2 linked regions of the Homo sapiens genome follow. The protein of the gene in region 2 purifies or fractionates together with the protein of the main gene of each other region. This does not show direct contact. Each region holds a gene or a part of one and is shown on either strand. Other genes may lie near its edges. The genes, in order: ATP6V1D and ARMH3.

What was found.
Region 1: the proteins of ARMH3 (region 2) and ATP6V1D fractionate together in Homo sapiens (co-fractionation; one large-scale study listed by BioGRID). This does not show direct contact.

Annotation. Positions count from the first base shown.
Region 1 is NC_000014.9:67,346,200-67,350,017, reverse strand, and holds part of ATP6V1D (V-type proton ATPase subunit D), read left to right. Parts: intron 1-913; coding exon 914-981; intron 982-2,564; coding exon 2,565-2,609; intron 2,610-3,818. UniProt on the Homo sapiens protein: Subunit of the V1 complex of vacuolar(H+)-ATPase (V-ATPase), a multisubunit enzyme composed of a peripheral complex (V1) that hydrolyzes ATP and a membrane integral complex (V0) that translocates protons.
Region 2 is NC_000010.11:101,989,868-101,993,685, forward strand, and holds part of ARMH3 (armadillo-like helical domain-containing protein 3), read right to left. Parts: intron 3,737-3,818; coding exon 3,671-3,736; intron 2,172-3,670; coding exon 2,102-2,171; intron 745-2,101; coding exon 684-744; intron 1-683. UniProt on the Homo sapiens protein: Involved in GBF1 recruitment, Golgi maintenance and protein secretion.

The sequences.
Region 1 (3,818 bases), on a different chromosome or scaffold from region 2:
CAGTTTTAATTAAATGCCTTCCTGAGGTCACTTGGCTAATTAGGGGCAGAGGCAGAAGTTGTTTTCAAGGTTTCTGATTTTATTATTTTCCTAATGACATGATGCCTATTATCTAGGAGCTTTCACTGCTCTTGGGCCTTAATAAGGCCCTTTGAAGTGGTAGGCTTTCATTTTTGCCAGTGCTGGTAAGATCACAGCTTGCATTGAATTTTCTAGCAGAGGGTGGAGATCAATCAATAGTGTATAAGTGGTATGTGAGTGTTTTAGGGTGGTTATGGGGAAGATACTTTCTATAATATTTATTTTTGTTTTGTTTTGAGATTGGGTTATGAGACTGGCTAATTTTTGTATTTTTGAGTTTCACCACATTGCCCAGGCTGGTTTTGAACTCCTGGCCTCAAACAATCCTCCTGCCTCGGCCTCCCAAAGTGCCAGGATTACAGGCGTGAGCTATCGCACCCTGCCAGGAAGGCACTTTCTGGTAACATTTGAGAAGTCACACAAAGCCAGATGGAACATAGTTTCCAGGGTAAAGGAATTGAACGCCAGCTTAACCAATTCAATAGCAAACCTAGAAAGGAGTTTTCTCTATCTCACACTAGCAGAAGAATCCTTAAAGTTATATCCATGTAGCACACCTCTGACTGAAAACATAAGCAATCCACGAACTTTAAAATCATTCTTTGTTCTTTTCTTACTGCTAATGTTTTGAATATTGTTCATTCTCTGCTTTCAGAGGCCCTCCTCTAGCAGTAATGACTTTTCTCCCTTTTTGGAAAAAGGACAGTTATCAAAACATACTTAATTGTGACATCTCACTCTTGGTCTCATTTAATGTTAAAACTATCCAGTGGGTCCCTGTAGGTTTATTTCTGAAGAGTCTGCTAAATAAAGTCTTTCTCTTTTTCTGCAGCACTACAGTTATCCAAAATGTCAATAAAGCGCAAGTGAAGATTCGAGCGAAGAAAGATAATGTAGCAGGTAACGTTTCAACCTTTTAGAAACCCTTTGGGGAGAAAAGAGGTGACATTTTAAAATTAACCTGTTTATACAGCAAGATCTTAATGTCCTAGTTTCTTCCTTCTACTTAGAACAAGTTGATTGGCTTTACATGTTAAAATCATTAACAACCAGGTTTCTAATTACTCAGGATAACTTGACTTTTGTATAGAAGTGAACACTTAAGAAGGCAGGTTCCGGCTGGGCACGGTGGCTCATGCCTGTAATCCCAGCACTTTGGGAGGCCGAGGTGGGCGAATCACAAGGTCAGGAGTTCGAGACCAGCCTGGCCAACATGGTGAAACCCCATCTCTACTAATAATACAAAAATTAGCCAGGTTTGGTGGCACGCGCCTGTAGCCCCAGCTACTTGGGAGGCTGAGGCAGGAGAATCGCTTGAACCCGGGAAGCGGAGGTTCCAGTGAGCCGAGATTGCACCACTGCACTCCAGCCTGGGTGACAGAGCAAGACTCTGTCTAAAAATAAAAAATAAAAAAATAAAGAAGTCAGGTTCCACTGGATGTGGTGGCTCACACCTGTAATCCCAGCACTTTGGGAGGCTGAGGTGGGCGGATCACAAGGTCAGGAGTTCGAGACCAGCCTGGCCAACATGGTGAAACCCCATCTTTACCAAAGAATACAAAAATTAGGCCGGGTGTGATGGCTCACACCTGTAATCCCAGTGCTTTGGGAAGCCAAGGTGGGCGGATCGCCTGAGGTCGGGAGTTCGAGACCAGCCTAATATGGAGAAATCCTGTCTCTACTAAAAATACAAAATAAGCCAGACGTGGTAGCGCATGCCTGTAATCCCAGCTACTTGAGAGGCTGAGGCAGGAGACTCACTTGGACCCAGGAGGCAGAGGTTGTGGTGAGCCGAGATTGCGCCATTGTACTCCAGCCCAGGCAACAAGAGCGAAACTCATCTTTAAAAAAAAAAAAAAATTAGCTGGGCATGGCATGTGCCTGTTGTCCCAGCTACTCAGGAGGCTGAGGTGGGAGAATCACTTGACCCCAGGAGGCGGTGGTTGCAGTGAGCTGAAGACCACACCACTGCACTGCAGCCTGGGCGACAGAGTGAGACTCTGTCTCAAAAAAAAAAAAAGAAGGCAAGTTCCTAAATTCATTAATTGAAACCAATTACAATTCCATACTTAAGCTCTTGATTTTTGAGTTTGATGAAAAAGAAACACAGAAAACAGTGATTAAGAAACAGAATTTAGGCCAGGCGCGGTGGCTCATACCTGTAATCCCAGCACTTTGGGAGGTTTAGGCGGGTGGATCACCTGAGGTCGGAAGTTCAAGACCAACCTTACCAACATGGAGAAACCCCGTGTCTACTAAAAATACAAAATTAGCCGGGTGTGGTGGTGCATGCCTGTAATCCCACCTATTCAGGAGGCTGACCAGGAGAATTGCTTGAACCTGGGAGGCAGAGGTTGCGGTGAGGCGAGATCACGCCATTGCATTCCAGCCTCGGCGACAAGAGCAAAACTCCGTCTCAGAAAAAAAAAAAAAAGAGAGAACTTAAAGGTTTATGAATCCATGTATGCTTCTGTGTTTAACAGGTGTTACTTTGCCAGTATTTGAACATTACCATGAAGGAACTGACAGTAAGTGTGAAACTTTTTGTATTACTTTGTGTCTCTGGGATTTCCTGTTTCCTCTTTAAATGAACTAAGTTCTGGAAAATGGTGCTAGATGTTGAGAGGTTCCTGAGTTAGAAATCCTCTTATTTGATATAGTCAGGACAATAGTTGATCAGTTAATCAAAAGGTCTTAAGGCCGGGCACAATGGCTCATGCCTGTAATACTGGCACTTTGGGAGGCTGAGGCAGGCAAATCTCCATCTCTACAAAAAATATAAAAAATCAGCCAGGTGTGGTGGCACGTGCCTGTAGTTTCAGCTACTTCCAGGGCTGAGGAGGGAGGATTGCTTGAGCTGGGGAGGTAGTTGCAGCGAGTTCTGATCACGCCACTGCACTCCAGCCTGGGCTACAGAGCAAAACCTTGTCTCAAAAAAGAAAAAGGTCTTATGCTAGGAAGTCATAAAACATTATACATATCTTAAAATATTTCAATATTTTATCAGAAATATATCAATGTAGAATCACTTGCTATTTAAAAAATATAAGGCCTTTTGAATATGAATTCACTGATTAGACTTCTGTGTTGTTTTTCTGCATATCCTACACCCACAATGCACTGCTTATAATTCCCAGTTTGGGTCTCTTTAAAGTCAAATAAGATCTTAGACACTGATGCAACCTGAATGCTGATTCTTTCTAGATTTTTATAGCCCACTTCCACTTTTTAAATAACTGTCTTATTCATTCCATTCCTAGTTTGACAGCATATTTTCTTTCCAAAGTAAAGTATTAACTTTTTTCATAGAAACAATATTCTTGGCCAGGCACAGTGGCTCACACCTGCAATCCCAGCACTTTGGGAGGCTGAGGCAGGTGGATCACCTTAGCCCAGGAGTTTGAGACCAGCCTGGGCAACATGGTGAAACCCCGTCTCCACCCAAAAAGTTACAAAAATTAGCTGGGCCTGGTGGCATGCGCCTGTGGTCCCAGCTACTCGGGAGGCCGAGGTGGGAGGATTGCTTGAGCCTGAGAAGTGGAGCTTACAGTGAGCTGAGATCGCACCACTGCACTCCAGCCTGGGTGGCAGAGTGAGACCCCATCTCAATAAATAAATAAACAAATAATATTCTTTCTTTTGGCACTTGTATTTCCTTGCTTCATGTGATATTTAATTAAATCATATAGAATATTAAGTACATTTCATACGAAGAAGTAGAGCATTCTAGAGAGAGT
Region 2 (3,818 bases):
ATGGATCAGAAGCGCTATCTCTCTCTAAATTCGTCCTACCTAATGCGAAAGCTCAGAGACAACTAAGTGGTCTGCTGGTATTGCATATCTTTGATTACAACAGACCCCTGCGATCACTATATTCATGTGTCGGCTCCCTCTTCATGCAGTGTGCCTAGAAGTGATCATGCGGATATGTGCAGAATCCACATTGTGGTTTGTGCTTATTACCTCTTCTGAAAAGATGTACAGATCCAGGCCAGAAAATGTTCCCTAACACTTCTCCACATGCAAATGTGTTTTTCTTAAAGTATACACAGACCATGAACTTTCTTTTTTTTTTTTTTTTTTTCCCAGACAGAGTCTTCGCTCTGTCGCCCAGGCTGGAGTGCAGTGGCACAATCTCAGCTGACTGCAAGCTCCGCCTCCTGGGTTCACGCCATACTCCTGCCTCAGCCTCCCAAGTAGCTGAGACTACAGGCGCCCACCACTGCGCCCAGATAATTTTTTGTATTTTTTGTAGAGACGGGGTTTCACCGTGGTCTCGATCTCCTGACCTTGTGATCCGCCCGCCTCGGCCTCCCAAGGTGCTGGTATTACAGGCGTGAGCCATGGCGCCCGGCCTACACAGACCATGAATTTTCTAACATTCAGTTCTTTAAAATAGATTTGTACACATTAAATGTGTACATATTTGTACTTACATATAGAGATCCATAGGAAACTCCTTCATCATGTGTGTTACAATAAACTCTACCATCAGGTCTGAAAGGGGAATAGAGAAAAACTGGATCAATTACAATGGAATTCATTTCTTGTCTTTGAGTTGGAAAAAAAGCTTCTGAGTACACCTTGCACTCACACTGAACGGCATCCACTAACCACATCTTTATTCATATACACTTATTTTATATAACGCATTTTGTGTAACACTGTTCACCACCTGCCACTTGTAAAGTAATAAGAAATTATTTCACTTGCTGACCTCCAGAAGGATACCCTGACCTGCCAATAAATTCAGATAAATGGAAAATTTCATTGTATAGATATTTCATCCCATGGCATTAATGCAGACTGCCAAAGGGAAATCATATTCTGAGACTAGACAATGAAGCAAGCTCTGAGAAGAAATTATGGATCACATTTGTGTAACCAGAGACTCAGCTCTAAAGCTATGTCAGTCAATCTCATCTTACTATCATGCTCAGTTAGACAGATATTGACTGAAATGGGCTGTGGGGCTTTGGGTCAAGAGAGGCTTATTATACAGCCTTAATTACTGTTTCTAAAATTAAGTAGATTTAGAAACTGGGGCTGAATATCCAAGTGAAATGGGATTAAGAATTCAGCTAATTCCCTGAGGAAAATGCAGAATTCTGGACAGACAAAATTACCCAAGATACAGCCCCCTACCTGTCAACTCAGTCAGCCTCATCTCAGTTTAATATACTCAGGGGAAGTTTTGTATATGTAAACCATGAACTTCAAGCCTCCTGGCCAGCCAGCACATCAATTCAAACCAAGAAAGGATGGGAAGAATTTGAAATCTTTTTTTTTTTTGAGATGCAGTCTCGCCCCAGCTGGAGTGCAATGCCGTGATCTTGGCTCACTGCAACCTCTGCCTCCTGGGTTCAAGCGATTCTCCTGCCTCGGCCTCCTGAGTAGCTGGGATTACAGGCGCACGCCAACACGACCAGCTAATTTTTGTATTTTCAGTACAGACAGGTTTTCACCATGTTGGCCAAGCTGATCTCAAACTCCTGACCTCAAGTGATCCGCCCACCTCAGCCTCCCAAAGTGCTGTGATTACAGGTGTGAGCCACTGCGCCCAGCCTGAAATCTTGATCATGTATCTTGTAAATCATGTATCAAGTTTAGACACAGCCATTTGTCTCACTGGAATGACTTTTTTCTTTGAACAACAGGACCCTTTTATTGACCACTCTATAACTGGGGTTGCTTTACCAAACACAACAATAAACATGATTCTTAGGCCAGGGAAAAAACACAACTAATAATTTATTTGCGGAAGAAGCACATCAAACAGGTTCTACTCTTCATCTTCATCATGAAAGCCTATCGCTGTCACAGAACAATGTCAATGTTGATGATACTCACTCACCCAGTACTGCACATACTAAAGGACGGCAGGGAAGATTCTTGTCTGCTGCCTTCTTCCTGTGTCTCATAGGCTTCACACCAAAAAAATGAAGAAAGGAAATTAGTAGACACCGGCACTGACATCCAATGGCCCATCATCATGTTCCTTGTGCAAATAAAATCACTATTACAGGGATACTTCCTTTTCTTTCTCTTTTTCACATGGTGGGAGAGGAATGAGGTAGCATGGGATGAGGCGGGGAAGGGAGGACTTGTGAATGCTTCAGTTATCAATGCACGCCTGTTACAAAATTACAATTCACAACCTCAAAGGGCACTAGAGAATACTACAATGGGAAAACTGTTGGTTTTACTTTGCTTTTAGTTATATAAGTGGCATTACTAACGACAAAAGAGGTACACTGGTGTTTTTCTTTGACGATAAATAATAATAATAAAAAAAAGAGGAAGTGATGGTGCCACCTATAGAAGCAGCAACAGTAGTAGTTGCAAAAAAATAAAGAAAGTTTTACATCTAAACCTCAATGTAATTTTTTTTTTTTTTTTGAGACGGAGTCTCGCTCTGTTGCCCAGGCTGGAGTGAAGTGGCACGATCTCGGCTCACTGCAAGCTCTGTCTCCTGGATTCGCGCCATTCTCCTGACTCAGCCTCTTGAGTAGCTGGGACTACAGGTGCCTGCCACCACACCCGGCTAATTTTTTGTACTTTTAGTAGAAACGGGGTTTCATCCTGTTAGCCAGGGTGGTCTCAATCTCCTGACCTTGTGATCCCGCCTTGGCCTCCCAAAGTGTTGGGATTACAGGTATGAGCCACCAAGCCCGGCCCTCAATGTGATATTTTTTAACATACCTCCAAGCTTTAAGAAATTCCCTGATCCTCCATATTCTATTTGCCCACTTCTCAGATGAACAAATCTGAGCAGCAGCTAGTCTTAGCCACTCAAAAATTATACTACATTTTGAAAACAAAAGGCTTAGAACCATTTCCTTGCTGAAACCTATATTATTGAAATCCAGTATCAGGCCAGGCGCGGTGGCTCACACCTGTAATCTCAGCACTTTGGCAGGCCAAGGCGGGCAGATCATCTGAGGTCAGGAGCTGGAGACCAGCCTGGCCAACGTGGTGAAACCCCATCTGTAACGAAAATACAAAAATTAGCCGAGCGTGGTGGCAGCCACCTGTAATCCCAGCTACTCAGGAGGCTGAGGCAGAAGAACTGCTTGAGCCCAAGAGGCAGAGGTTGCAGTGAGCAGAGATCACACCATTGCACTCCAGCCTGGGGGGGAGAGAGAGAGAGAGAGACTCTCCCTCAAAAAAAGAAAAAAAAAAAAAAAGAAATCCAGTATCATTGCCACGCTTGTGAATCTTCCAAAACTCTTGATTAAGAAACAGCTCCATGACACACAAAAATCCCAACAACAAGCATGGGTCTGTTGAACAGCCGTCATGCAAAGCCCTTTGGCACAACTTTCCACCCACATTTGTTCTAGTAAGATCAATTTCATCCCAACCCTGCCGACATACAAAAAATTTCCTCTAAGAAAAAACAAGAAGCAAAAGAAACACCTACCATTCTATGTAAGTTTACTCGAAAATTCATGTTGTCATCATGCAAAAATGCATTGGCATATTGATCCTAATAAAAATATAGAGAAAAAGTAAGAAGCGAGAGCTATATTTAAGAAACTGTAATCTATCACACTTCGTACAAATCCTTG